Homo sapiens: one gene and its partners. The protein of the gene in region 1 binds, or shares a complex with, the protein of each later gene. Each region holds a gene or a part of one and is shown on either strand. Other genes may lie near its edges.

The links.
Region 2: LSM3 (region 1) and LSM2 share a complex: the UniProt entries of both Homo sapiens proteins name them as parts of the precatalytic spliceosome.
Region 3: LSM3 (region 1) and USP39 share a complex: the UniProt entries of both Homo sapiens proteins name them as parts of the U4/U6-U5 tri-snRNP complex.
Region 4: LSM3 (region 1) and PRPF6 share a complex: the UniProt entries of both Homo sapiens proteins name them as parts of the U4/U6-U5 tri-snRNP complex.

The regions. Positions count from the first base shown.
Region 1 is NC_000003.12:14,195,116-14,201,786, forward strand, and holds the end of LSM3 (U6 snRNA-associated Sm-like protein LSm3), read left to right. Parts: intron 1-2,920; coding exon 2,921-3,001; 3' UTR 3,002-6,007; downstream 6,008-6,671. UniProt on the Homo sapiens protein: Plays a role in pre-mRNA splicing as component of the U4/U6-U5 tri-snRNP complex that is involved in spliceosome assembly, and as component of the precatalytic spliceosome (spliceosome B complex).
Region 2 is NC_000006.12:31,796,331-31,804,195, reverse strand, and holds the end of LSM2 (U6 snRNA-associated Sm-like protein LSm2), read left to right. Parts: intron 1-5,688; coding exon 5,689-5,719; intron 5,720-6,146; coding exon 6,147-6,206; intron 6,207-6,313; coding exon 6,314-6,439; 3' UTR 6,440-6,800; downstream 6,801-7,865. UniProt on the Homo sapiens protein: Plays a role in pre-mRNA splicing as component of the U4/U6-U5 tri-snRNP complex that is involved in spliceosome assembly, and as component of the precatalytic spliceosome (spliceosome B complex).
Region 3 is NC_000002.12:85,618,919-85,626,783, forward strand, and holds part of USP39 (ubiquitin carboxyl-terminal hydrolase 39), read left to right. Parts: intron 1-301; coding exon 302-371; intron 372-2,566; coding exon 2,567-2,661; intron 2,662-4,707; coding exon of another isoform or gene 4,708-4,727; coding exon 4,728-4,864; intron 4,865-6,620; coding exon 6,621-6,773; intron 6,774-7,865.
Region 4 is NC_000020.11:63,976,910-63,984,783, reverse strand, and holds the start of PRPF6 (pre-mRNA-processing factor 6), read right to left. Parts: upstream 3,653-7,874; 5' UTR 3,539-3,652; coding exon 3,468-3,538; intron 1,738-3,467; coding exon 1,569-1,737; intron 1-1,568. Other genes in the region: SAMD10 (sterile alpha motif domain-containing protein 10), read left to right, coding at 4,790-4,930, 6,440-6,539, 7,378-7,559, 7,642-7,813. UniProt on the Homo sapiens protein: Involved in pre-mRNA splicing as component of the U4/U6-U5 tri-snRNP complex, one of the building blocks of the spliceosome.

The DNA of each region.
Region 1 (6,671 bases):
TCAGGAACCCAGACTCCTTGTGTCTTCTGGCTCCACCAACCCCTAAGTCTTTTGTCGTCATTTCACATCCAGCCAGTGGGAACAAAAAGGAGTAGAGGAGTGTACATGAGAAGTTTATGAATCAGCCTGGAGGTACTACACCTCTTCTTAAATTTTTTAGGCTAGAACTCAGTGATATGACCCTAGCCAACTGTAAGGGAGCCTGGGAAATATAGTAGAATTGTGTGCCCAGGAAGGAAGAAGGAATTTTTATGAACAGCTAGCAGTTTCTGCCATAGTCTGCTCCCCCCCACCCACACTGGCAACCAGTGTCTGTATATACCTGTGAGCAAAGGGCTTTAAAAAAAAAATTATTTATGGAAAAATGACCATGGGTTAACTTACCAGTTCATTTTCCCTAGAAACAGATAAAATTGGAATGTCAGCTGTGTTAATAAAAAATATTGCTGTATTTTAAAAAGAGGCCCCTGGTTTGTAAACTGCATCTGAACTGAGAGAACTGTGAATGAGCTCTGAATACTGTTAGGAGCCCATAGCAATGGTCTTCCCTGAGAGCATGCAACCCTTGTAGTGGAGTGTGCCCCCTCCTTGGTGACTGTAAAGCCACATTCATGGAACTGTTGTAAACGATACTGGTTCTGGTGTGGAGCTTGGCGCAGTTAAGCCAGGGTGGCTCCTGCACCCACCTGCTAACTAAGCAGTCATTTGGGTAGCTAGGGAAGAATCCTTGGAATGCTGTAAAGACTTCTGAGACACTTGCCACTGCCCAGCTGGCATGTGCTGTGTTTCCTTTGTATAAAGCTGTGTGCCCTTGGCTATCTTGAGCTTTGTGAGTTTTTTTTTTTTTTTTTCTTTGAGACGGAGTCTCACTCTGTCACCCAGGCTGGAGTGCAGTGGCGCAATCTTGGCTCACTGCAAGCTCCGCCTCCCAGGTTCACGCCATTCTCCTGCCTCAGCCTCCCAAGTAGCTGGGACTACAGGTGCCCGCCACCACACCTGGCTAATTTTTTTTTTTATATTTTTAGTAGAGACGGGGTTTCACCGTGTTAGCCAGGATGGTCTTGATCTCCTGACCTCATGATCCACCTGCCTCATCCTCCTAAAGTGCCGGATTACAGGTGTGAACCACCGTGCCTGGCCGAGTTTTGTGAGTTTGATGGCCAAGTTGCTGCAGAGATCAACGATAGTGGGTGTTGCAGAATCCTACTTCCCAGACAGAACCATCTGTACCCCCAAAGGATGCAAGCAGGATATCCAGCTCAGGGTGCAGGACTGCCACGTGACTTTCGGTTTTCTCCGTCAGACCACATGTGGTCACTTGTACAGAAACCTATCCCCAAAGAAGATGAATAATTTACCCCTCCCACATTTATGATAAACACAGCAGGGACAGGATATCCACCACAAAAACTCTCTTCCCAGAGAAGGAAGGAATGAGAAACATAAGACAGTTACTGGTCCCTAACAGTGGTGAATCCCACTGGGAAGGCATGAATGCTCCCTGTCCTGGTAGCAGCAGAAATCCCTCAATTAGATCAAATATGTCCCATCCAATGTTTGGAACTTATACTAAATTTAATTGTGCGTCCTACATCTTTATTTGCAAAATCTGGCAACCCTAAATGGGGTCCGCAGAGCTTTCAGGGCCAACTTCTATTATGCTGGAAGACGCAAATAGTCAAAGGTTTTTTTTGGCCAGGCTTATGGTTTCTTTGGCAATGCAATTTCTTTAAAAACTTAGAACATAGGTTTCTGAGCTGTTTACATCCAAACAATTCAAAGGGCCAGTAACCTGTCTAAGCTCTTCCCTAGGCATAGTTTCTAGGACTGCTTTATTTCTTCAGTTTCTCACCCCTGTTCTGCTTTCTGAAATTAATGTTGACTACTTTGAGGCCATTTGCTACAAAAGTTTGGGTGGAAAGACAACACCCTTAATCTGATCTTTGCCTCAGGGCTGAGTTTGTTTACCTGGGAAATTTTGCTGGGCCTTGTTTCTCAAAGCCTTTTTTCATACTTATTTCTGTAACTTGGGGTCTAAAAGCCAGTGGCTTTTCTAACCCTGTGAATCCTGTTTCTTTTCATCTCTGCTTGAAAACCAACTAGTTCTTGCCTGAGCTTTTCTGTTTCTTCTACTGCCCTGCTAAATACATTAGGCTAACAGCAACATCTACTAACATTTGGCTTTTCCAGCCTCTTCTCCCAGAGCTCGTGAGTTTAGGAGCCCCTTGGGCTACATTCCAAGTTTTATCTAATATTTTGCCAAGGCATAATATTAGGATTTCGAACATTCATGTGTTTCTTTACTGCCCAAGGCCTGACCACTAAGCTCATGCTTCAAGGTATCCATTCCATATGTGTGACCACAGTAGCACCCAGAAGTAACACATAATGGCTCAGCAAAGTAGAAGTTGATCTCTTGCCCATATGACAGCCCTGGTGGGGTTTAGATCTGCACAATAGCTTTCTTCCAGGTGGCAAGTCAAGGACCCAGGCTTCACCTATCAGTGGCTCTGCCATCCCCTGAGCTCTCGCCATTATCTTAGTTCATTTAGTGTTAGAGGAACGACTGCAGAGGGGCATTCTGGGTCAGTCTGGATATAGTCCTGTCATTTCTGTTTACTTGCCATTGGTTAAAGCAATCCGATGGCTACATCTGGTTGCAAGGAAGAATAAGAAACATAGTCCAGCTGTGTGCCCAGGAGGAGAAGAGTGAGTTTTAATGGGTAGCTCCAGTCTCTGCCACAATTGTCGAAAGGAAGCAGTTGATGGATTGGTTCTTGGTGCTACCAAGGGAAGTGATCAGGTTTTTTAATCCAATTTTTTTGTGTCATGATGAATCCATTTTTTAACATTTCTGTCACAAACAATAAGCAGTAATACACAGTTGTACAAATATGTTCTGTTTTTTTTTCTCTTCTAGTCAACGAAACGGAATATTCCAATGCTCTTTGTCCGGGGAGATGGCGTTGTCCTGGTTGCCCCTCCACTGAGAGTTGGCTGAAACAAAGAATTTGTCCTGTATGGAAAACGGGAGACTTTGTACAGTGGCCTCTCTAAAAGTACAAAACATTCATAAGAGAAACCTGCATACATTTTGATATTAAGAAATAATTCCGGGGATTCTTCCACTCCTGAAATGAGTTGATTTGCAGATAACTCACAACTTCTTAAGCTAAATGGTATTTTCATTTTTCTCAAGCTCTCCAATAAATATGACCACCAAGATGCAGAACTCTTTCAGGACTTCTTTTGCTCCATTATTCTCACAGATACTTACTGATTTTTCTTTTCTTTAAATTGGTGTTTCCTTGTAGATTTTTTTAAGTGCGGTCTTCTGTCTTGTGAATTATTTAAAGTAAGCATGTCTTACCTTCACTTAGCACACATTTGCAGTGCACCTACTGTGTTTGAGGCACCAGGTTTGAGTGCTGGGAACCAGAGTTTTATCAAAATGCTTTCTGGGCCAGACATGGTGGCTCATGCCTGTAATCCCAGCACTTTGGGAGGCCAAGGTGGGTGGATCACCTGAGGTCAGGCGTTTGAGACCAGCCTGGCCAACATGGTGAAACCCTTTCTCTACTGAAAATATAAAAATTAGCCAGGCGTGGTGGCGCATACTTGTAATCCCAGCTACTCAGGAGGCTGAGGCAGTAGACGCTTGAACCCAGGAGGCAGAGGTTGCAGTGAGCCAAGATCACACCATTGCACTTCAACCTGGTCAACAGAGCGAGACTCCGTGTCAAAAAAAAAAAAAAAAAAGTTTTCTGCCCTCAAGTCTTCTGGGGAGGCAGATGTTTAAACCAACAATTGCAGGCAGTAAGATTAGTGCTGATAGAATCATGCACATGCAGGATGCCATAGGAGCATGGGGAAGAGCACCCAAATATGGGAGAAAGGGGCAGAGGGACATTGTAAACATCAACCCTGCAGTAGAAGACAGAGCAAAGCATGATTTCTCTTTTCTCTGGCCTGATTTAATTCTAAGGTCAGACGTTCAGCTTGATCATAACCTGTTTATAATTATGACTCAGACCATTTTTCCACTCTTGGATCATTGGCCATTAATGATGAGGGGTCTCAAACAACATGTCTCAGTGACACAGTAAAGCAGAAATTGGCTGAAAGCAAAGCTGTTTTTATTTCTAGCTTCAGTCAGCACATAATGCTTAAAACCTAAAGAGGAAAGTAAAAGCGTGTTACAATCTCTCAAACTTTATCAAGACAGGGCTTAGAACCTGACATCCTCCGCTATGGTCATTCCATTTTGAAATGTAGAAAATCCAACTTGTGGATGGTTTGTCTGTAAATGAGCTGAATGTGTGTGCGTGTTCATTATCAAGCACGATATGCTCACAAATGCACAGTACTTTAAGCCTTGTGCAAGAAAGATGCTTTCAGTAAACATATTTAAAAGGTTTTATTTTCCTTACTAATGGTACATGCCCCTGCAAGTTCATGGAGAAGAGAAAAACAAGTGTGGGTGAGCTGATGGAGGCTTCATCTTAGGTGAGGAGGCAGGAGAGACACCCTCCCTTCACTTGTGCCATCCCCACGCTTTGTCCTTAAGCTGTAGTGGTCCCAGGAGATAACCTGTTTACAGCAGCCCATTCAGTATTGAAAAATGAACTCCCTCCTGCAGAATGTTAGAAGAAACAACCTCAAAGACCTCAGGCCGCCTGTGGTCATTAGTATGTGGCAGCAAGATTGAACCTGCCTGCCTCCTACCTGTGTGAGCCTGTGGTGTGGGTGTGGTACCAAGGCCCTGGCTCTGGGCAGTCTGTTGGCTCCTGGTGTTCACTAAGGCGTGGGGTGACAGGCCATCTGGCCTCGCTCTGCCAGTCTGCAGTTCTCCCCAGCACTGCATTCATTTTTAGTGGTTTCTGATAGTCACACTGAATTCCTGGACACTTTCTTCTCTTCATTCTTAGTTATCTTTCTCCTTTTTCTCCTGGAACTGATAGTTTACACTAAAACTTTTGGCTGTGAGGACTTGATTATACACATTTCTAAAACCCATGAACCTTAATATCTGACACTGTTACTCTCATATGCACACACAACTAAAACATACCAACCTACTTCATTTCCTAGCTGCTAAGATACAAGGGGAGGGACAATAAAAGGTTAACTGCAGAATAGCCACCTATGTGTCAGGAAATGGAGGGAGGGGAGGCAATGTGTGAGTCCTTTTGGAGCTGGGACTCAATCCACAACAGAGACAGCTCAAGCAGGGCCCTGCCATGGTCCACACTGAGGTTTCCTCTGCAGTGGTGCTGTCCACTGAGGGGTTATGGTGTGAGGGCCCCTGGGAGCCACGCCTTGGACTTCTGAGTCTGCAGAGCACTCGGCTCCAGCCAGCTGGATGGCAGGTGGTCAGTGGAGCTGGTGACTGGTGGTTTCTGCAATGAGGTGTCAGATTAGCCTAAGGGAAGCCTCTTCAGCAAGTATCATGCCTGGATCCCGGTCTTGGTTGTTTTATGAGAGGCCGATATGAATTGCCATTGCCTCCCACAAAGAAAAATGGACAAAATATGGGACCACATCTTTGAGATGAAATGTGCCCAAAATGAAAAGTAACTTGAGTATCCCAAGTTAAACTTAATCATTAGCTGCAAATGGACGATTTTCAAATTTCAAATAGTGATTTTTGAAGATTTGCCCAAACTAGAGTACTATCCCTCTTCACACTAAGAGGCAGAAAGTGGTTTCACACACCCTTTTATTTAATCAGCTAAAGTGGGTGCGGTGACACACACCTGTAAACTCAACCACTAAGGAGACTGAGGCGGGAGGATTACTTGAGCCCAGGAGTTCGAGATCAGCCTGAGCAACATAACAAGACCCTGTCTCAAATAATACTTAGCTATTACCCATATTGCTTTTAGCCTGCTGCCAGGAGGGGAGAAATGTTATTGTTTGAACAGATGTCAGATGTGAGTAATGCTCAGCTGTGTTCAATGTAGAAAATTAATAAAAGTTCCAGGAGTCATCCTGGCTAGATCAAGAAGCACAGTTGATGTTTCTCTGTCACTCAGCTCTGCTGAACTACATGGATTTCATTCGTGGGCAAGCTCTTCCCTGTAGCAGATGCAGACTTCCAGCCTACCTGCCCTCCAGCTAAAGTGGTCTCATCCTCCTTGCTTGGTCCCTGTGCCCATCTGTGGGCTGGTTTTTACGGCCATGAGAATGTGGGGCTCTGATTGGCCAGGCCTCAGTCACACGCCCATTTCTGGAACTAAGAGCAAGGTTATCCCCACCTGAGCTGTATGGTCTAAGTGCAGAAGGAGGGGTCGTTCTCTGAAGGAAACCAGAGGAAAGGGGAAATGGAGCTGGACACAATGCCTATTACACAGGAAAACTTTTAGTCTGCCCCAACTTATAGAAAAATCCCTTTGGTACTTTCCTATTAGTAACAAATTTCTTGGAACACACCTCAGACTGACACTATGACTTTAAGCTATTGCTCTGGAATCCAGGAGGTTCTGGAGCAACCTGTGTGGGGATCAGTATGGGTGGAGCTCAGATTTGTTGGCTGACTGGGCCTGATGGTAGCCCGAGTCCTCTTGAGGGGTCTAGGTAGGAGATCTGCAACACAAGAGGGCTGTTAAGCTGGGGGTAGGTATCAGGGGGTCCTCAGAGCTTCTGGGGAGGGCAGGGTAGTTGAACAGAGT
Region 2 (7,865 bases), on another chromosome or scaffold:
AGAGATGGAGTTTCACCATCTAGGCCAGGCTGGTCTTGAACTCTCGACCTTGTGATCCACCTGCCTCAGCCTCTCAAAGTGTTGGGATTACAGGCGTGAGCCACTGCGCCTAGTCCTACTTTCTTTCTTAAAATAATATTTATTTATTTAAAAATTAGAGACAGTGCCTCACTTTGTTGCTCAGGCTGGTTTCAAATTCTTTGAGTTCAAGCAGTCCTCTTGCTTCAGCTTCCCAAAGTGCTGGGGTTACGCGCATGAGCCAGCACACCTGGCCCTGTACTTATCTGTACAGTCCTTTAAATAATATGTACATTTAGGCCAGATGCGGTGGCTCATACCTGTAATCCCAGCACTTTGGGAAGTCGAGGCGGGTGGATGCCTGAGGTCACGAGTTTGAGACTAGCTTGGCCAACATGGTGAAACTCCATCTCTACTAAAAATACAAAAATTAGCCAGATGTTGTGTTGTGCGCCTGTAATCCTAGCTGCTCAGGAGCCTGAGGCTGGAGAATCACATGAACCCGGGAGGCGGACGTTGTAGTGAGCTGAGATCAGGCCACTGCACTCCAGCCTGGGCGACAGACTGAGACTCCATCTCAAAAAAAAAAAAAAAGTACATTTAAAATATTGATACCTGTTACCTCATTATCCTTTAGAAAGATGGGATCAATTGTATTCTCTTCCCAAAAGCGTCTTCCACATTTATTTTTTTGAGATGGGGGTCTCACTCTGTTGTCCAGGCTGTAGTGCAGTGGCACCACCATAGCTCACTCAGCCTCCTGAATAGCTGGGGCTATATGCCACCATGCCCAGCTAATTTTTTAATTATTTGGAGAGGCAGAGTCTCACTGTGTTGCCGAGGCTAGTCTGAAACTCTTGGGCTCAAGCAGTCCTGCCACCTTGGCCTCCCAAAGTGCTGGAATTACAGGTGTGTGCCACTGTGTCTGGCTGTCTTCCACATTTCTATGTGAGATAATTTTTTCATGGGTTACACGTTGACAGGGCAGGGAATGGTGAGGAGAGGGACTTAAGGGCCTTTGCGTTTTAGAACACAGGTTTCCATTTGTAGCACTGGCAATGCAAGTGATATTGATGTGTATAGATTGGGGCCACAGAGCAAGACAAGTACGGTAATCACTATCAGTCTTAGGCAATTTGGTGTGATGACTTGTTTTTGATTCTCCTCTTTTCTCCTTCCTGGGCCTTTTACATGGGAAGCCTAACTGTTGTGTTATAACCCTAGGCCCTAAAGTACCTTTATTTTTTTTATTTTATTTTGTTTTTGAGACAGAGTCTTGCCCTGTCGCCCAGGCTGGAGTGCAATGGCGTGATCTCGGCTCACCGCAACCTCTGCCTCCCGGGTTCAAGTGATTCTCCTGCCTCAGCCTCCCTGGTAGCTGGGATTACAGGCATGCGCCACAACGCCTGGCTCATTTTTTGTATCTTCAGTAGAGACAGGGTTTCACCATGTTGGCCAGGCTGGTCTCCCAACTCCTGACCTCGTGATCTGCCCACCCCAGCCTCCCAAAGTACTGGGATTACAAGTGTGAGCCACTGCACCCGGCCGTAGTAACATTTCTTTTCTTTTTCTTTTTTCTTTTTTTTATTGAGACGAGTCTCGCTCTGGTCGAGTCTACGCCAGGCTGGAGTGCAGTGGTGCTGTAACCTCCGACTCCCTGGTTCAAGTGATTATCCTGCCTCAGCCTCCCGAGTAGCTGGGATTATATGCATGCACCACCACGCCCAGCTAATTTTTGTATTTTTAGTAGAGAAGGGGTTTCACCACGTTGGCCAGGATGGTCTCAATCTCCTGACCTTGTGATCTGCCCACCTCGGCCTCCCAAAGTACTGTGATTACAGGTGTGAGCCACTGCGCCCAGCCTTCTTTTTTTTCTATTTATTTATTTATTTTTGTTTGAGATGGGGTCTCACTCTGTCACCCAGGTTGGAGTGCAGTGGCATGATCTCGGGTCACTGCAACCTCTGCTGCCTGGGTTCAAGTGATTCTCCTGCCTCAGTCTCCCAAGTAGCTGGGATTACAAGTGCCTGCCACCATACCTGGCTAATTTTTGTATTTTTAGTAGACATCGGGTTTCACCATCTTCGTCAGGCTGGTCTTGAACTCCTGACCTCGTGATCCACCTGCCTCGGCCTCCCAAAGTGCTGGGATTACAGACGTGAGCCACTGCACCCGGCCTTTTTATATTATTTTTAAAATTTTTCATAGAGACAGAGTCTCGGCCGTGTTGCCCAGGCTGGTCTTGAACTCCTGGACTCAAGTGATCCTCCCACCTCAGCCTCTCAAAGTGCAGTGACTACAGGTGTGAGCCAATATGTGTGTGGCTTTAAAGTGACTTTTCTGTTGGGATGAGAAAGAAGATCTTTCTCCTTTTTTTTCCTTGAGACAGGGTCTCACTCTGTTGCCCTGGCTGGAGTGCGGTGGCGCGATCTTGGCTCACTGCAACCTCTGCCTCCTGGGTTCAAGTGATTCTTCCACCTCAGCCTCCCGAATAGCTGGGATTACCGGTGCATGCCACCACTCCCAGCTAATTTTTTGTATTTTTAGTAGGGATGGGGTTTCACCATGTTGGCCAGGCTGGCCTCAAACTCCTGACCTCAAGTGATCCTCCTGCCTCAGCCTCCCAAAGTGCTGGGATCACAGGTGTGAGCCACCACGCCTGGCCAAAAGTTCTTTCTCTTATGTTTGTTGTCAGACCACTTTTGTGCTATGTATCTCCCCCTCCTTAAGGGACTTAATAAAATGACACCACTTTGTACAATTCCCAAATGTTATTTCACTGCTGGAGATGGTGGGGTGCTGTCAAATGTTTTTCAGCAGCTAGCAATATGGTGAGAACATTACTGAGGCAGTGGGTTTCAGATACTGGGTGTTTGTTTTTGTTTTTGTTATTAGGCAGAGACTCACCCTCTGTCTCAAAAAAAATAATGATTGCCTAGTACTAGTTCATTTAAATTAATTTCCTAGAGCATATTTAAGTGGGTCTTTTTTTTTTTTTTTTTTTTTTGAGACAGATCCTTACTCTGTCACCGAGGCTGGAATGCAGTGGCATGATCTTGGCTCACTGCAACCTCTACCTCCTGTGTTCAAATGATTCTCGTGCCTCAGCCTCCTGTATACCTGGGACTACAGGCATGCACCACACACAGCTAATTTTTGTATTTTTATATTTTATTTTTAAATTTTTTTTTTCCTCCTGGGTTCAAGTGATTCTCGTGCCTCACCTCCTGAGTAGCTGGGATTACAGGTGCACACCACAATGCCCAGCTAATTTTTGTATTTTTTTTTTTTTGAGACGGAGTCTTGCTTTGTCACCCAGGCTGGAGTGTAGTGGTGTGATCTCCGCTCACTGCAAGCTCTGCCTCCCAGTTCACGCCATTTTTCTACCTCAGCCTCCCAAGTAGCTGGGACTACAGGTGCCCGCCACCATGCCCGGCTAATTTTTTGTATTTTTAGTAGAGACGGGGTTTCACCGTGTTAGCCAGGATGGTCTCGATCTCCTGACCTCGTGATCCACCCGCCTCGGCCTCCCAAAGTGCTGAGATTATAGGCGTGAGCCACCACGCCCGGCCAATTTTTGTATTTTTAGTAGAGATGGGGATTCGCCGTGTTGGCCAGGCTGGTCTTGAAGTCCTGGCCTCAAGTGATCCGCCCACCTTGGCCTCCTAAAGTTCTGGGATTATAGGCATGAGCCACCGCACATGGCCTAGACGCTGGGTTTTAAAGACTTTCAGAATTTTACAAAAATTGGGGCAGAGAACTGCCAACTTTATTTTTGGCAAGATAAGGACGTTTTTAAAACTGCTATTTATTACGATTATTTTTATTTATTTATTTTTCTTGAGATGGAGTCTCACTCTGTCACCCAGGCTGGAGTGCAGTGGCTCGATCTCGCCTCACTACAACCTCCACCTCCCGGGTTCAAGTGATTCTCCTGCTTCAGCCTCCCGAGTAGCTGGGATTACAGGCGTCTGCCACTATGCCCAGCTAATTTTTTGTATTTTTAGTAGAGATGGGGTTTCACGATGTTGGCCAGGCTGGTGTCGAACTCCTGACCTCGTGATTCGCCCGCCTCGTCCTCCCTAAGTGCTGGAATTATAGGCGTGAGCCACCGTGCCCGGCCACAGTTATTTTATTTTATAACTTTAAAATAGAGATGAGGTCTTGCTATGTTGTCTGGGCTGTTCTCCAGCTGGCTTCAGGCGATCCTCCTGCCTCAGCCTCCCAGAATGCTTGGATTATAGGCGTGAACAACCATTCCCAGCCAAAGGCTGTTTTTTTAAATTTTTGCACCATTCTCTCAAAGAGCACTGGTGTTTTGATAGCATTCCTCAAATAGCATTTCAAGGGGCTCGAGGATTGGGGAATGGAGAGGACATCACTCATGCCTGCATCATCAAGAGTAATGCTACCTACCTTTATCCACATATGGGCTCTGGTTCCAAAGCAATAAATGTTTGAAAATAGCTAGCCTGGGTGACATTCACAGTGAGACCCTTTCTCTACAAAAAAAAAAAAAAAAAGTCGGGAATGGTGGCTCATGCCTGTAATCCCAGCACTTTGGGAGGCTGAGGTGGGCAGATCATGAGGTCAGGAGATCGAGACCATCCTGGCTAACACGGTGAAACCCCGTCTCTACTAAAAATACAAAAAATTAGCCAGGAGTGGTGGCCGGCATCTGTAGTCCCAGCTACTCGGGAGGCTGAGGCAGGAGAATGGCGTGAACCTGGGAGATGGAGCTTTCAGTGAGCCGAGATTGTGCCACTGCACTCCAGACTGGCCGACAGAGCGAGACTCCATCTCAAAAAAAAATCAGCTGGGCATGGTGGCTCAAGCCTGTAATCACAGCTACTCAAGTGGCCACAGTGAGCCATGATCACGCCATTTCACTCCAGCCTTGGCCATAGAGTGAGACCCTGTCGCAAAAATAAAAAAAAAATAGCTGATGGTTTTGGGAGTCACACAGACTTGGACTGAAGTTCCCATTTGTTCTAAACTCATAAAGTTTAAAACAACCTCTCTGAGCCCCTGGAAGGTAATAACTACTTTGAAAGATGGCTGTAAAGATTACAAATACTATATAGAATACAGGTCTAGCCTTTACCAGTTGTTTAATGGTAGCTGTTAAGAATAGGTTGGTTTGGCCGGGGACAGTGGTTCACACCTGTAATCCCAGCACTTTGGGGAGCTGAAGTGGGCAGATCGCCTGAGATCAGGAGTTAAGGAACAGCCTGGCCAACATGGTGAAACCCCATCTCTACTAAAAATAAAAAATTAGCCGGGCATGATGGCATGCGCCTGAAGTCCTAGCTACTCAGGAGACTGAGGCAGGAGAATCGCTTGAACCTGGGAGGCAGAGGTTGCAGTGAGCCAAGATCACACCACTGCACTTCAGCCTGGCTGACAGTGAGACTCCATCTCAAAAAAAAAAAAAAAAAAAAAAAGAATGGATTGGTTTAGGGAGAGGAGATGTGGGGTTGAAAATAAACTACTCTGTTAGTTGTCTTTCCTACTCCAGGGCTTAGGAATGCCCCCTTTTGGTTCTACCTTTTCTGACATCCTCAAGTCCTTGACTTCTCCCAGTCATGTTCTCATCCCAGCTCTGAAGTCACCTCTATGTTGACTTTGTTATAAACTAATTTGATTCTTCTCTCCCTCTGCCCTTGACAGCATCTGTGGAACCCTCCATTCTGTGGATCAGGTGAGATATAGCACGGGCCCCAGAATTGGTTCCTGGAGAAGGAGAGGGGAGACTTAAGGGTTGGGTTCTTACATCATGTCTCTAGGGTTAATAATGGTGTTCGTCGGCCAGGCACGGTGGCTCACGCCTGTAATCCCAGCACTTTGAGAGGCCGAGGCCTGAGGTCAGGAGTTCAAGACAAGCCTGACAAACATGGTGAAACCCCGTCTCTACTAAAAATACAAAAAATTAGCTGGGCGTGGTGGTGGGCACCTGTAATCCCAGCTAGTCGAGAGGCTGAGGCAGGAAAATCATTTGAACCCAGGAGGCGGAGATTGCAGTGAGCCGAGATGGCACCATTGCACTCCAGCCTGGGCAACAAGAGCAAAACTCTTGTCTCAAAAAAAAAAAAATAATAATAATAATGGTGTTCATCTTCCTTTCCTAGTATCTCAACATCAAACTAACTGACATCAGTGTCACAGACCCTGAGAAATACCCTCACATGGTGAGTTGGGGTCTGTGGAGAAGAGGAAACACCTCTAAAGCAGGAGGCCCCTGGGTGGTTAGAGGACATTTTTAAGGGTGTTTTCATATTTGTCCATCTTTGTCTAGTTATCAGTGAAGAACTGCTTCATTCGGGGCTCAGTGGTCCGATACGTGCAGCTGCCAGCAGATGAGGTCGACACACAGTTGCTACAGGATGCGGCAAGGAAGGAAGCCCTGCAGCAGAAACAGTGATGGCTCCTCCTCCTCTTCCCCTCCCTCTTTCATTGGTGACCCATAACCCCAAGTCCCAGCCCAGAACCCCTAACCCCCAATACTTGAAGGGGTTTTGTTTTTTTACTAATGATGGTTTTGTGGGTTTTTTTTAAGGGATGAGTGGATGAGAGGAGTAATAGGGAACAGCTATCCTCTCTTGAGAAGGGGAGGATAAGTAGGCTGGGAAACTTCAAAGCCTTCCCAGTCCCCAGCACCTGCCTTTCTCACTACTTCTCTGGAGATGGTAGGAGAGTTTCCTAGGTCTTTCCAGGGCAGCATGTGATTCATTTGGGGATGGAAGGAATCTGTCCCGCATCGGGAATAAAATTTATGATGCAAATTTGTGTTTTGGTTCTGTTACTATGTGTTGGGCAGGGGGCTGGGACATGGAAAAGGATGTCGAATTCATCCAAGCCCCTGTTACTCTGCGTTAACCCAGCCAAGAATCCAACTCAGCTTCCCACTACTCTCCTTGGTATAAAGCATATAATACAGTTGCTCTACACCATGTTTCCCCAACATGTCCCTACCTGTATGTTCTCCCTGTGGCCTTTTGCTTATACCATACCTGCAACTGGAGTGCTTGCTGTCCTTCCATTAATGTGATAGTGTCATAAGATACATTTCATGCTACCAGACTTCACCAATCCAACCAAATCAGTTCATGTTTTCTGAATATGTATAGAAGATAAATACAAGTGATGTAATTTATATTTTAGAGAAAAGTTGTGACTGGGAATTACTAAACTTCATTCACTCATTCAGCAAATATGAGTTCATGATACAGATGAGACTTCTCAGCCTTAAGGGACCCTTAGAGACCATCTAGTGTGACCCTCCTTTTTGTTTTTGAGACGGGAGTCTCACTCTGTTGCCCAGGGTGGAGTGCACTGGCTTGGTCTGGCTCACTGCAACCTCCGCCTCCCGGTTCAAGCGATTCTCCTGCCACAGCTCCTGAGTAGCTGGGATTACAGATGCCCACCACCATGCCCGGCTAATTTTTTTTTTTTTTTTTTTTTTTTGAGATGGAGTCTCACTTTGTCACCCAGGCTGGACTGCAGTGGTGTGATCTTAGCTCTGCAATCTCCGCCTCCCAGGTTCAAGTGATCTTCTTGCCTCAGCTTCCCAAGTAGCTGGGCTTACAGGTGTGTGCCACCACGCCTGGCTAATTTTTGTATTTTTACAAATACTGCAGCTCTGTCGCCAGGCTGGAGTGCAGTGGCACGATCTCAGTTCACTGCAACCTCAACCTCCAGGGTTCAAGCAATTCCCTGCCTCAGGCTCCGGGGTAGCTGGGATTACAGGCGCCTGCCACCACACCTGGCTAATTTTTGTATTTTTAGTAGAGACGGGGTTTCACCATCTTGGCCTGGCTGGTCTTGAACTCCTGACCTGGTGATCCACC
Region 3 (7,865 bases), on another chromosome or scaffold:
ACCACCATGCCTGGCTAATTTTTGTGTTTTTTGTAGAGACGGGGTTTCACCATAGTTGGCCAGGCTGGTCTTGAACTCCTGACCTCAGGTGATCCACCCATCTCGGTTTCCCAAAGTGCTGGGATTATAGGCATGAGCTACCGCGCCCGGCTAGTGGACTTTTTTTTCGATATTGTTGCCACCCAAACAATAGGAACTCATCTTGATTAGTTTTTCCCATTTCTGTTTCTTTTTTTGTTCTGTTAGTTGGCCCTGAGTATAGGTTTCCCATTTTCAAAGCCTGTGATGATTTTCCTTTCAGCAAAGAATGGCCGAGTGGATTCTGAGGACCGGAGGAGCCGCCACTGCCCGTACCTGGACACCATTAACAGGTCAGTAGGACAGAGATGCTGAGTATAGCACAAGAACAATGGAATCTGTGCAGAAAGTTTTTGGACTGTACAGTGAACAACACATTGACAAACTTTACTTTTTTTGAACCTGTCTAGAGAGTTGTGCTTCTTGCCATGTTACTCCTTATTCTTTGATTTAAAGTGTCAGAACACATGTTGTTAAAGAGCTTATTTTGCATTTGTATGTTGGGATAACAGGATGCATAGTATCCTAAAATAACAGTAGCACATTGAAATGTTTATGGAGTATCTAGTATGTGCTGGATACTATTTTGGGTGCCTGGGATTCAGCAGAAAAAAAACACAGAAATTTGTTTGAAAGCTGAGGTAGTTTACCTCATCATAGCATTCTTTTCTCTGATTCCCAGGTGGCATGTAGAATGTTTTTCAACCTATATTGTAGGGGAATGTTTTACAATAATATAATTACTCTTGTAAGAGCTGGGTGTGGTGGCCCACGCCTTTACTCAGCCCTTTGGCAGGCCAAGGCAGGAGGATCCCTTGAGGCCAGAAATTTGAGACCAGCCTGGTCAACATAATGAGACCCATCTTTTTTTTTTTGAGATGGAGTTTCATTTTTGTCCCCCAGGCTGGAGTGCAATGGCGCGATCTTGGCTTACTGCAACCTTCGCCTTCCAGGTTCAAGTGATTATCCTGCCTCAGCTTCCTGAGTAGCTGGGATTACAGGTGCCCGCCACCACGCCCAGCTAATTTTTGTATTTTTTTTAGAAGAGACGGGGTTTCATCATGTTGGCCAGGCTGACCTCAAACTCCTGAACTCAGGAGATCCACCTGCCTTGGCCTCCCAAAGTGCTGGGATTACAGGCATGAGCCACCACGCCCAGCCAACGAGACCCATCTTTTAAAAAAACTTAAAAAAAAAGTTATGGCCGGGTGCTCTGGCTCATGCCTGTAATCCCAGCACTTTGGGAGGCTGAGGCAGGCAGATTGCTTGAGCTCAGGAGTTTGAGCATCCTGGGCAGCATGGCAAAACTTCAGCTCTACAAAAAATAAAAAAATTAGCCAGGTGTGGTGGTGCACTCCTGTAGTCCCAGCTTCTTGGGGGGCTGAAGCAGGAGGATTGCTTGAACCTAGGAGGTTGAGGCTGCAGTGAGCTGAGATTGCGCCACTGTACTCCAGCCTGGATGACAAAGTGAGACCCTATCTCAAAAAAAAAAAACCAAAAAAGTTATAAGGGCTGTTCATTATGGTAGGCATGAGCCACCTGTGGCTTCAGTGGCTCCTGCAGTTGAAGAACTGAATTTTAAATTTTATTTAATTGAATTACAGTCAGCCTCAGTATCAGGATATGGAACCTGAAGGTACAAAGGGCCAGCTGTAAGGGGCTTGAACATTGTGGATTTTGGTATTTGAAGGGGTCCTAGAACCAGTGTCCTGTGGCTACTGAGGGACAGCTGTATTTTAAATTTAATTGTCAATAGCCACTTTGTCTAGTGGCCTCTAATAAATTAGACAGCATAGCTCTTTGGGATTATTATCGGTTAATTAAGAGTTACTATTTGAGAATAAATCTCTTTGTGGATTCAGTGGAGATAAGGTTTTTGTTCCTTACTGCCAGTACTCACTTTGCACTTGAATAAATAGGTCTGTTTATAGGTATTCTGAAATTCTTCAGGCTATTTGTTTTTATGGATAAAAATACATTTTTATTTTGTAATTAATTATTATTATTATTTGTTTTTAAGAGAGGATCCCACTCTGTATCCCAGTCTGGAGTGCAGTGGTGGATCAGAGCTCATTAGTCACAAACTCCTGGGCTTAAGTGATATGTTTTTCTTTTATGCAAGGATTTATTCACCCTTTTTATGTCCTCTCCACCTCCAGAATGCTGCTGGGGTACTGTTACCTTAGTCTAACTTGTAGCTTTCTCTCTAGAGAAAGTGACTGCAATGGAAAGTCCTGAACTGGTTACAAACACTAATGAGAAAGAGGCTCGTGGGTATTATGTGTCTGGTGGAGACACCTCAACAGTGCTTTGGAGCATGGCGGGTGGAGGTGAGGAATAATCAGTGTCCCCCATGGTGTATATATGGTTGTGAACTGTTTTCTGAAGGATGTTATGTGGTATCATGGGTCACAGAGCCAGCACTGCTTCATTTGCGTGCCTTCCTACATGTCCATCCTATTTATTTTTTTCTGTTTTGTTTCCTTAGGAGTGTGCTGGACTTTGACTTTGAGAAACTGTGTTCTATCTCCCTCTCACACATCAATGCTTATGCCTGTCTGGTGTGTGGCAAGTACTTTCAAGGTAAATAAGTTGTTAGAGCTAACTGCAGATCTGCTCCAGAGGGACTTTTTTTTTTTTTTTAAAGAAAGTAAGCTGTTCTCAGGAATCATATCTAATAATTTCTATTTGTTCCCAGGAAATTGAAATATTCTTAGAAAACCAATAAGAGGTTCTCTGACTGGTCAGAACCTGGATATGTCTGTAAGGGAGAAAGAGCTAGTCATATGAAAGACTGTAATCTTAAAGACTCTGGGTTCTCGAATCTCTAATATATGTATTTTTTTAATTTTTACTTTTTTAAAATTATTTTGAGACAGTGTTGCCCAGGTTGGCTCACTGCAACCTCCGCCTCCTGGGTTCAAGCAATTGTCCTGCCTCAGCCTCCAGAGTAGCTGAGATTACAGGCGCCTGCCACCATGCCTGGCTAATTTTTGTATTTTTAGTAGAAACGGGGTTTCACCATGTTGGCCAGGTTGGTCTTGAACTCCTGGCCGCAGGTGATCCACCTGTCTTGGCCTCCCACAGTGCTGGGATTACAGGCGTGAGCCACCGCGCCCGGCCTAATTTTTTTTTTTTTTAAGAGATGGAGTCTCACTCTGTCACCCAGGCTGCAGTGCAGTGACGTGATCTTGGCTCACTGCAGCCTCTTGACTCCCAGGTTCAAGTGATTCTCCTGCCTCAGCCTCCTGAGTAGCTGGGATTACAGGCATGCACCATCACACCCGGCTAATTTTAGTATTTTTTAGTAGAGAGGGGGTTTCACCATATTGGCCACACTGGTCTTGAACTCCTGACTTTAAGTGATCCATACTCCTCAGCCTCCCAAAGTGCTGGGATTACAGGCATGAGCCACCGTGCACGGCCACATTTTTTTAAAAGATGGGATTGTACTCTGTTGCCCAGGCTAGTCTTGAAATTCCTGAGCTCAAGCAGTGTGCTTGCCTGTACCTCCCAAAGTGCTGGGATTATAGATGTGAGCCATTGCACCCTGCTGTCTGGCTAATTATTTTATTTTATTTTTTTGTGGAGACAAGGCCTTATTATGTTACCCAGGCTACAATTTTTTTTTTTTTTTTGGAATATTCTTTAGCTCAAAGGACTTTTTTTATTCCATTTTTTTCTGAAAATTTATCATTTCAACTCATTCACACCAAGCAGATGCCATGTACATAGTATAGTGGAGGATTCAAATGAGGTAAAAACAGCTGGGCACAGTGGTTTACACACCTAATCCTAGCATTTTGGGAGGCCGAGGAGGAGGATTGTTTAAAGTCAAGAGTTCAAGACCCACCTGGCTAACATAGCAAGACCCTGTCTCAAAAAAAGAGATAAAAACTGTATTCTTTGCTCTCGTAAGGAGCTTATAAGGAGTCAAGGTTGACATGTAAAACAACCAGTGAGTTCTGTTAGATCATAAAGATTACTGCTGGACTGTGGCACGGAGTAAAAATAAGTGCAATAGGAGTTGAATGTGCAAAAATCAATGTTAGCTGGAGTGTTTATGTTGAGTTCATGGAAGAGCTGAGGTGGGACTTGAATTGGCAGGACATAGAATTTGAATGGTTAAGGGAGAGAGATTCTAGAAAGGAGTAGCAACATGAAAAAAGTTACATAGATAAAGCATTGTCCTGAATATGGGCATTTGGAAATCCAGGACTGAGTGATGATGGACTGTCATAGGATATGTATGTATTTATGTTTATGTGTATTTATGCACACATATATGCATAGATATTTCTAGTTTCATGTATATAGGAAACTATGTATGAATATATAGTTATATGTATTATATATAGATATATATATAGGTTATATATATTTTACATATATATTAAAAAATAGTGAAATTTGTTTCCCTAATCAATGTCTTAGGCCATTTAGAGAATGAAGTAACTAATGTGCTAGTCTTTCTTGCTAATTTTTTTATGAGAGAACTTCATGTGGAGGATTCATTTTATGAATGGCATAATATTTGTTTTTTGCGGATATTAACATGTTCCGGTAGAAAATAATGAAAGGAAAAGCAAACCTGATCTGTGTGTTCTAGTATCTGCCCTTCTATTACAGCTTTTCACCCTTCCCTACAGGCCGGGGTTTGAAGTCTCACGCCTACATTCACAGTGTCCAGTTTAGCCACCATGTTTTCCTCAACCTCCACACCCTCAAGTTTTACTGCCTTCCAGACAACTATGAGATCATCGATTCCTCATTGGAGGATATCACGGTGTGTGTCTAAGAGGGTTGGTTTGGGGTCCATTCTTTAATGAGCCATCCCAGGGCTCCCAGGGGACTGCCCCACCTGAGGACAGGGAAGAATCTCAGTCCCTTTAGGCATCGAGAGGCTGCTTTCTCTTTTGGGAAGAACTGGGGAAACTGAGTAAGGTCAGAATTCATAATTGCAGCCTGTAGTCTGTAACTTAACTGTCATTTCTACTTGTAACATTGAGGGCTAGGACTGAAGAAATATGGGTGTATTCTGATGGGGTTTAAAGTGTTTTTGTGAAATTATTCTTCTACACTGTGAAGTAGGGATATGAATTGGTCCTGGTGTAGGACAGTATTTACCAAGCTGCACACCGGCTCCTGGCTGCTTTTAACATACGCCGTGGCCAGAGCATCCAGCCACAGATATCTTATCTGTGGGCTCTAGTTTGTGACCTGTGCCAAGAGACACTCATTGTACTGAGCATGGAAAGTCCTCTTGGGTTTGATTAGTGTTGGGCTTTTGATTATTATTTTCCTTTTCAGCACGTGGGGTGTATTCATGGTGCCATGTGCTCTGTTCTTGTTTTTGGTTTTTTTTTTGAGACAGGGTCTCACTTTGTCGCTCAGGCTGGAGTGCAGTGGTGCCATCACAGCTCACTGCAGCCTCGACCTCATGGGTTCAAGTGATACTTTTACTTCAGCTTCCCAAGTAGCTAGGACTGTAGGCGTTACCATCATGCCCAGATACATTTTTAAAATTTTTTGTAGAGATGGAGTCTCACTGCATTGCCTAAGTTGTTCATGCTCTGTTTATTTTTAAGGAAAACGTGGTATTTAGTCTTTGAAATACTGCTTTTTCTACTTGTAAAAGTTGTATAAGCCTATTATTAATAGTTGAGATTAAAATAGTTATGGACAGGCTTGGTGGGGAGGCCCACACCTGTAATCCCAGCACTTTGGGAGGCCGAGGCAGGTGGGTCATTTGAGGTCAGGAGTTTGAGACCAGCCTGACCAACATGATGAGACCCCGTTTCTACTAGAAATACAAAATTAGCCGGGCATGATGGCACATGCCTGTAATCCCAGCTACTTGGGAGGCTGAGGCAGGAGAGTTGCTTGAATCTGGGAGGGGGAGGTTGCAGTGAGCCAAGATCATGCCATGGCACTCTAGTCTAGGCAACAAGAGCAAAACTCCATCTAAAAAAAAAAAAAAAAGTTATGGTCAGTATTTATAGAGGGAAAAACTGGGCTAAATTCAGTGTTTCAAAGTGAGTTTGCGATGATCTCTGTCCAGTCTGTGACATAATGACTGTGGTAACTCTGTGCCTGGGAAGAGTCTGATCCTGCTCTTCCAGTACCAGGGACTCATGGAGATCCTCATTCCCACCCAGAGTGGAGGAAACTCTCCTGCTCCAAAGCTAGGTCCATGTGCTGCTCCCAGGAGGTTCTATCTGAGACTTAGACTGCCTTTAGGAACTTGAGTATTGTATGGTTTCTGGCAGTCAGTTTTCATGAGTTGACCAGACCTGAGGTCGGCGAAAAGACCTGGGATTCAGTGATTTTGGGATAGACACAGAGATCCCCTTGTAGATTAGCCATGGGAGAGGATCTACTCCGTGTTACTTCAATCTTTACACCTACTGGTTCGGACTATTTTTCTGTGTGTGGTGGGATGTTCATGGCCAAGTGTTTTTTGTTTTTGTAGAAATTACTGTTACAGACATTTCTTGTGAACTCAGCTCTTAAACAACTTAGCATTTTCTTTTGCTTTGCAGTATGTGTTGAAGCCCACTTTCACAAAGCAGCAAATTGCAAACTTGGACAAGCAAGCCAAATTGTCCCGGGCATATGATGGTACCACTTACCTGCCGGGTATTGTGGGACTGAATAACATAAAGGCCAATGATTATGCCAACGCTGTCCTTCAGGTAAGATCAAGACGGGAACATTGAGGAAGAGAAGGACACCCAGAAGGCTGAGCACAGTGGCTCACCCCTGTAATCCCAGCACTTTGGGAGGCCAAGGCAGGCGGATTGCCTGAGGTCAAGAGTTTGAGCCAGCCTGGCCAACATGGAGAAACCCTGTCTCTACTAAAAATACAAAAATTAGCTAGATATGGTGGTGGAAGCCTGTAGTCCCAGCTATTTGGCAGGCTGAGGTGGGAGAATCGCTTGAATCCGGGAGGCAGAGGTTATAGTGACCCGAGATCGCGCCACTGCACTCCAGCCTGGGGAACAGTGAGACTCTGTTTCAAGAAAAAAAAAAGAGAGGGACAGGAAATAGTATGTGTACTGGCCAAGAAATTACTGCCTTCGGCCAGGCGCAGTGGCTCATACCTGTAATCCCAGCACTTTGGGAGGCCAAGGCGGGAGGATCACCTGAGGTCAGGAGTTCGAGACTAGCTTGGCCAACATGGAGAAACCCCATCTCTACTAAAAATACAAAATTAGCCGGGCTTGGTGGTGCATGCCTGTAATCTCAGCTATTCGGGAGGCTGAGGCAGGAGAATCACTTGAACCCAGGAGGCGGAGGTTGCAGTGAGCTGAGATCACGTCACTGCACTCCAGCCTGGGCAAGAAGAGCGAAACTCCTCCGTCTCAAAAAAAGAAATTACTGCCTTCTTGTAGAGTATAGTCAGATGATCCTCAGACACCAAGTCTTGCTAAGGACTCTACTTGAGTAATTGTTCTGCAACAGGCAGAGCATTCCTTTGCTCACTGGGCTGCTGTCAAATGGTGAGGCTTTTTCTAGCCTCTGGCTCATGGCATCTGGAACTTCAGGGAATGAGGGACCGAATCTGTGTTGCCTTGCAGTATCAAGTAAGAAACATGCCAGATGCATTTTTTTAAAAAAATGGTGTAGATATTTGTTGTGCTGGCTGATCAATGACTTTTTCCTGCCCATGTGCTCATAACCCTGAAATTGGAAAGGCAGAAAACCAAAGCTGTCCTATTTTCTTTTTTTTTTTTTTTGAGACGGAGTCTCAGTCTGTTGCCCAGGCTGGAGTGTAGTGGCGCAAT
Region 4 (7,874 bases), on another chromosome or scaffold:
CAAGGGACAGTCTACCATATAACTGGTGACTACTCTTCAAGCGTCAAGGGCATGGAAGACAGAGGAGACCCCCAATTGGAAGGGACCAAGGAGACATGACGAAATGCAATGGGGGATCCTGGACTAAGCCTAAGCCAGAAAGCGGACATTCATGGAAAAACATGAAATGCAAATACGACTGACAAATTAGTTAATAGTACTGTGTCAATGTTAACTCCTTCGTTTCAATAACTGCACTAAGGTCATGTAACATCGGGAGAAGCTTGGTGAAAGACATGCAGAAACTTTTTTTTGGGGGGGCACTATTTTTGCAAATTCCTGCAAATTTAAAATTATTTCAAAACTAATTTTTTTTTTTTTTCTGAGACAGAGTCTCGCACTCTCGCCAAGGCTGGAGTGCAGTGGCGCAATCTTGGCTCACCGCAACCTCCGCCTCCCGGGTTCACAGCATTCTTCTGCCTCAGCCTCCCGAGTAGCTGGGACTACAGGCACATGCCACCATGCCCGGCTAATTTTTGTGTAGTTTTAGTAGAGACGGGGTTTCACCATGTTAAACAGGATGGTCTCGATATCCTGGCCTCATGATCCGCCCACCTCGGCCTCCAAAAGTGCCAGGATTATAGGTGTGAGCTACCGCACCTGGCCTCAAAACTAAAATTATTTTTAAAAATTTTCCTCAGAGGAAAAATGTCATCTGTTAGAAGACAGTTAATCGGTATTCAGTCAGCTGAAGTTTTTCTTTAGATGTCTGTTTAGAGGGCAATCACTAAAGCTAAAAAAAGCAAATACTATCACCAATTCCACTTTAAGTTTTTATCATTAAAGACTGGCAGCCAGGCGCAGTGGCTCACGCCTGTAATCCCAACACTTTGGGAAGCCGAAGCGTGCGGACAACCTGAAGTCAGGAGTTCGAGACCAGCCTGACCAACATGGAGAAACCCTGTCTCTACTAAAAATACAAAATTAGCCAGGCATGGTGGCGCATGCCTGTAATCCCAGTTACTTGGAGACTGAGGCAGGAGAATCGCTTGAAATGGGGAGGCAGAGGTCACAGTGAGCTGAGATCACACCACTGCACTCCAGCCTGGCCAACAAGAGCGAAAGTCCGTCTCAAAAAAAAAAAAAAAAAAAGACTGGCCAATAGGAAATGCCAAGGCAGTGGTCCTAACACCTGCAAGAACATCTCTTCCGACAAGAGCGAAATTCCATCTCAAAAAAAAAAGACTGGCCAATAGGAAATGCCAAGGCAGTGGTCCTAACACCTGCAAGAACATCTCTTCCGACAAGAGCGAAATTCCGTCTCAAAAAAAAAAAAGACTGGGCAATAGAAAATGCCAAGGCAGTGGTCCTAACACCTGCAAGAACATCTCTTCTGAGGGACAAAAAGTGCACATTTCTCCGTGTTTTTCCTGCTCCCTCTCACTCTCAGTAAAGATGTTCCATGAATAGCTAAAATTTAAATGCATGAGCCACTCCAAGCCATTCATTACAGACACCAACACACACTGGTTAGGTCAGCTGCTCCCAGAGACTGGCTGGAGGAGCCACGAAAGCCGGACACATCTCACCTCATCGTAATTGGTGTCATTTAGATCCTCGTCGTCATCGTCAGCAGCCTGATTTTTCTTCATCTGGTCCCCAACGGTTCTCTTGCCTGGGGGTGCATGGCGATCATCCACAGGGTCATTTGCATCACGGGCGGGCCCAATGTCTGACCGCGTGGTGAAGCCAGTGGCGCTGCAGGAGACCCCCAAGACACCGGGTGTCTGAATAACTCTGTTCCTGTGCTCTTCTCCACTCCTGGTTATCACTTACTAACACCTCTTTTTCTAACACCTTTGGGAAACCTCCAAAGATCCTGGTGACAATGAACTGCAGTCTCAAACACTTCTGATCTTCTCTGCTTACCTGAAAGTTTCAGCCTACCCTGATGATGTTACCAAGGCAATCTCTCTCCACCCTAAGGCTTCGATCATCTCCCCCTCCACATCCAACCAGGCCCTTAAACCCAACTTGGCCCACACTGAGCTCTTCCGTGCCCACCTTACAGCTGCTCTGGGGGGTTTCAGCTGATAACAGCTGTCCCAGATGCCACGGGACCATGATGTAATTTTTGCCTCCCTCTCCCACTTTCCCCATCCTGTCTGTCCCCAAGTACTAATGAATCCACTTTCAAAATCCCTCCTTCCCAGACTATGACTCCCATCACAGCTGGAAACCAAGTTACCTCTCCCTGCCTTTAGCCTTCCTCTACTTCAACCCATGCTCTGCCAGATGATTCTTCCCAAAACACAGCTCTGAGTAAAAAATTCTGGGCCGGGCGTGGTGGCTCACGCCTGTAATCCCAGCACTTTGGGAGACGGAGGCGGGTGGATCATGAGGTCAGGAGTTCAAGACCCCCCTGGCCAACATGGTGAAACCCTGTCTCTACTAAAAATACAAAAATTAGCCGGGCGTGGTAGCGGGCACCTATAATCCCAGCTACTCAGGAGGCTGAGGCAGAGAACTGCTTGAACCCGGGGGGCAGAGATTGCAGGGAGCTGAGATCGCACCATTGCACTCCAGCTTGGGCGACAGAACAAGACTTTGTCTCAAAAAATAATAATAATAATAATAATTCTGAAGGGTCATGATCTTTCTAACGTCTCCAGGAGCTCTAGCCTGACGCTCAAGGCCCCTCCAACCTCCTGAGCTCTATTCTATTCGCTGTACATTCCACTCACACTGGACTCCCTCCTGTTCCCTGGGCTTCCTCCTTGCCTCACTTTTTTTGAACTCCCACACGCAGAATGTCAGTTTCTCTTCTATCGTCACCGTTTCTACAGCCCTAAGTCCAGCTCTCTTACTAAACTTGGCTCCAATGCTACTCTCCATTAAGCACTGGGTTCTAAATCTGGTCCTCTTTACGTACTTATTTATGGTAATAGCAAACCCTCCTTAGTGAGCTTGTGTGTGCCCCACAGATTCCAATATAATACCACCACCAAGAAAAACCCAGTAGTGTTCCTCATCAAATGAATAGCCAAATAGGATAATAACGACTGCTCACTTATCCAGCAACGCACGGTGGTCATCTGTGTTGCAGGCATAGAGGACCCAGGCACGCTTAAGGCGGGGCGGGCGGGCGGGCGGGGGGGGGGAGTGTCAGCCCGACCTGAGGAAGGTGGTCGCGTGTTTCCACTACACGTCAGATTCCTCTACTCCTCACTGCAGACCGTATACAGCATTACCCATCTTACAGACCAAAACACTGGGCTGAGAGTCAATGTGTCACATCTAGGCGGCAAGCAGGGTGCACACACAGGTATGTCCTGACCCCAAAGCCCGTTGCTTCCTGCAGGGATTAAGCCGATCCACCAAGCGTCTTTCAGACTGCGCGGCCATAGACCCCCGCCCCCAAACACGCCCCAAAGCACTGCGCTCCTGTAGCCGGGTCCCCGCCCCTCGCGCGCCGCCCCAGGCCTCACCCCCGGCCCAGCCCCGGCACGTAGCCGAGGGGCGCGGGCATCCCTAGGAACGGTTTCTTCTTCTTGTTCATGGTGGCGGCGACGACCAAGGCTAGGAAGGAAAGGAATGAGGCAGCGGAAGAGGGAAAGACGCAGAGACTCTAGGCTTCGACGTCCGATGCACTCCGTAGCAAAGTGTCGCCGTCGTCGCGTCACCCGCGCCCCGGAAGCAGAGCGCTCAGTCCGCACACGCCCCGCCCACTTTTGATTCCCTGGGCGGAAGTCCCGACGTCCTGGTTCGACGACTTCCGGCCGCGGCTAGGGGGCAGGAACGTGGTAGGCGCGTGCGCGGGAGCGCCTCCTCGTGGAGAGGCGGAAGAAGCTAGGTCGAGCTTGCACTGGGACCCTAACTGGCCCCTGGGGGCTAAAAACAGCCTGGGGCATTGCTGCTTCCCGAGTGCTCTGATGCAGTCCGGAGACCTGTCTGTGAGAGTGGGACCCATGGTCCCCTCCCTCTGAACCCATGGCCCCCTCCCTCTGAACCAGCCCAGCTGCCCGCCCTCGCCCCTGGTGCGCCCTGTCCGAGCAGAGCTGTACCCTGTCCAGTTGTGTAGAGCTTGTGTGTACTGGTTATGGGCACACCTGTCTGTGTGCGTCCTGTGCGCACACTGCTGCCCTACGCTTTTAGCACTCATATTCTTGAACCCCCATTCAGGCATCTGTCCCTCCAGTGGGACTAGAGACCCCACCCACGCCCGCCAACATGCCTTGGACATTCTGGTGAGGGCCACATCCTTAGCTCCTGGAGAGCTAATTGACGAAATAAATAACCGCAGCTGAGCTGTCGGGAACACGTCAGTACATGAACATGGCTGTCAAGCATGTGGGTGAATTCTGTGTGTGTGATTAGTGGGGTGTGTGCACAGAGGTCACGTGTGCTCGTGTTTTGGGTGCAAGTGCATGACTGTACTCTGTGCATGCATTTCTACATGTCTGTGTGCATCTCTGGTCCTCCTGCTGTAAGACATCCTCCAGAGCCCCTACATACACCCAGGGAGAGCACCCAGGCTCCTGGGCAGAGCAAGCCGAATAGCTGGTTGCAAGCCTGGCCTGCTGCTGCACCAGGCAACCACAGTTCCCTAGCCCAGCCCCATCTCAGCACTTCTCACTGGAGTCCTGGAGCAAACACACCGCTCCGGCCTGCTACAGCCTCCTTGGAGTTCCCCTCTGCCCCATCTCCAGGCAAGCCAAGCCCCTTTCAGTTACAGAGCACTGTACCGCCCCCTCTCCCCCGGGCACTGAGCCAGGTTCTGGGGCTGCAGAGGGAAGGGAGAACCACCCTGATGTTCACAGTGGGGTGGGCGGTAAGCAAGAGTCAAGCTGGTTTCTCCGGGGAAGCGGGTGCCTATTTGAAGGCGAGTAAAGACGTAGGAGACCGAGGAAAGTGTGTGGGAGGCGTTGACCTGCCCCTTGTCCTGGCCCCGGTAGGTAGAAGACCCCTGTGAGATGCCCCTCAGCCCACCCCCACGCACAGAGGGGCCCGACCTCAGAGGACGCCCGGCAGGTTCACGGGGACTCTCCTCCGCGGAGCCGTGCCCAGGGGCGCACGGACGCCCCTCGCCCTGGCGGACAGCCTTGGTGCACGCAGGCCCGCGCGCCGCCGACACACCTCGGAGCTCCCGGAGCGCGCCCGGCACACAGGGCTCGGCGGCAGGTGCCTCGTCGCGCACACTCGCGGGCCGCGGGGACCGGCTCGGGCGCGGGGCCGGCTGGGGCGGGGCGGGGCGGCGGCGCGCGTTCCCCGCCGGCCACACCGGCCGCCCTGCACTCGGCGAGGGGCGTGTGCGCGGGCCTGGCACCCGCGGGCCCCATGTTCACCGAGCTGAGGTCCAAGCTGAGCCCCCCGCGTGGCCGCGCCGGGGCCGTGCGCGCGGGCTTCGGGGAGCGCCGGGATGTGGACGGTGAGCGGGGCTGGATTGGGGAGCGGGGATTTCTCGGGCGGGGGTCTCAGGGACCCAGAGGCACGGGGGCGGGGCGGGACCCGGCGGGCTTCGAGCGGCGGTGGCTGGGGGTATTCGGCGGATGTCTCGGCTCAACGGGGTCCCGTAGCCTTTGTCCTGCTTTAGGGGGCAGCCAGCCTCAGGCCTTGGGGGTCAGCGCGCCCTTGGCTTGGGGTGAGGGGGTGTCAAGCCGGGGCGCCTGTGTCCAGGCTGGCACTACGCTCGGGTCACCTTTTCCTGCGCACGGGGAAAACCCTCCCCCGCTTTTGCAGTGGGGCCGAAAGGGGGCCGAGGTCACATCCCGCCTCGGTGCCCCCGCCCCATTTCCTTCTGGAATCCTGACGTTGGGGCGGGAGGGACCGGACCGACAGACCGCGGGACGGACGGAACTCCCTCCGGGAGTGCAGGCAGGAAATGGGCGGAGCCTGCTTGGCCGGGGCAGGTGCCGTGCGGGCTGAGGAGTCCGACGGGTTTCCCCGGACTGCCGCGCGCTTCTGCACCAGCCCCGCCGCTCGAGGCCCTGCAAAGCCCGGCGACCACGGCGCCTGTCCGCTGGAAGGCGCGGGCTTAGAATAAGCCTTTTCCCACAGCACTAGGGGCCACCTCGGGGCGGTGGCCCACTGAGCACACCCTCTGCTGACCCCAGACCTCAAATTTGGAGTCACCCAGGGGTCCGGTTCCTGAAAGTTGCAAGAATGGGGGCGGAAGGTGTTATGTCTCCTAAGTCTTACAGGCGTGGGAGGACGGGGAAGTAGGATGTGGTTTTCACCGATACTTAGACCTCCTAGACACATCCCCAACCCCTGCCCTGGGTGTGGAGTGGGTGGCTGAGTCTGAGGCCGGGAGGGTCTCTCACTCTAGGGTGGATGGGATGAGGGCCCTAGCGTGGGAACCTCACCTGCCCTGCTGAAGGCCTGGGTGCTAGGGTGCTGTAAAGACAGGGGCAGGCCTGTGCCCACCTTCTGTCTCCCCACAGGCTCTGTTCACTTGCAGATACCATACAGAGCCTTCATTCATTCATTCATTGACAATGAATGTGGGGTGCCCCTCTGTAACCAGACCTGGATCAAGACGCCTGCCTCCCCAGACTCAGGTCAGCAGTGCCCCCAGAGATGATGACAAAGCTCAGATGAAACACTTTAATGCAGTTACTGTGGGAAGAGGGAGCACAGAGCATCACCGTGGGTCCCCAAGCAATGGCTGCACCCCACATACCTGTGCTGACCCGCCCATATCCAATGGGTACCCACCATTCACATGGCCGGTGTTGTCCCGGGCTGCAGGCCCTGTGGGGGGCGGCACAGCTGGAGAGCCCAGCGCGTGTTTGCGGAGTGAGCCCTGCTTGTCAGTTGGCCCACAGTTCAGGCTGTCAATGAGTCATAGTCAGTGAGTCGGGCCCCAACACCAGATAGGGCTGTGTGAACTGGGTGCCTTCAGTGGCGATGGGCAAGCAGCATCCTCAGCCCGGTTTCCCCAGCACAGACGACCTCCCCGGACTCGGGATCTGCCTTTCCTCAAAGCAGGCCGTGTGTGCACTTCCTGGTCTGGTGTGGTGTGTGCAAGACTTGTGGGCCAGCCCAAGGCAAGGGTGAGGTCAGGGCTGTCCCAGGATAGCTCCTCTTGTCATATGTCTCAGGTTCCCTTCCCTAGAGGGCACATCCTCTGATCTAAGAATCCATCCTGCTCCCCTGGGTGAGGGCTGTAGACTTGCAAGATGAAAGGTGTTTCCAGTTCTTCTCTTTTTGTGCTGGGTGAGGTCCTCGAAACAGGTCCTGCACACTTCCTTCTGCCTTTGGAGGCTTGGGAACCCCTCATTGGGGAGGTGATTTCCCGCACTAGTGTGGAGGAGATGGGGCAGGGAGCTAGCTCTCAAGTAGAGGAAGCCTCTGGTTCTGCCCTTGACTGCCCTGACCAGGCACCCCCACACACAGCCACTGCCCACTTCAGCTTCTGCCGGACCCTCCTGGAGCACACGGTGTCAGCTGAGAGCATCCCCTGCCACTTGCCTCGGACACCTGGCACCAGCCTCACGTGGCATGACTCCCGCAGCCAGAGGGCGGCCAGCAGCAGGCCAATCAAGCTCCTGCAGCAGCCCGGCACAGACACCCCCCAGGTACCCACCCACTCCACCCACCTCCGTCCCTGCCCTCCTTCTCCACCACTCTCACTCTGCCTGCCACGCCCCTCCCCTGCAGGGCCGGCTGTACTCTGACCACTATGGCCTGTACCATACAAGCCCCTCGCTGGGTGGCCTGACCCGGCCCGTGGTCCTGTGGAGTCAGCAGGACGTCTGCAAGTGGCTCAAGAAGCACTGTCCCCACAACTACCTCGTCTACGTGGAGGCCTTCTCCCAGCATGCCATCACCGGTACAGTGGCGCTGAGGGTGCTGTGGGAGTGGGGCTAACCTGCCTCAGAGCGTCTCTTCCC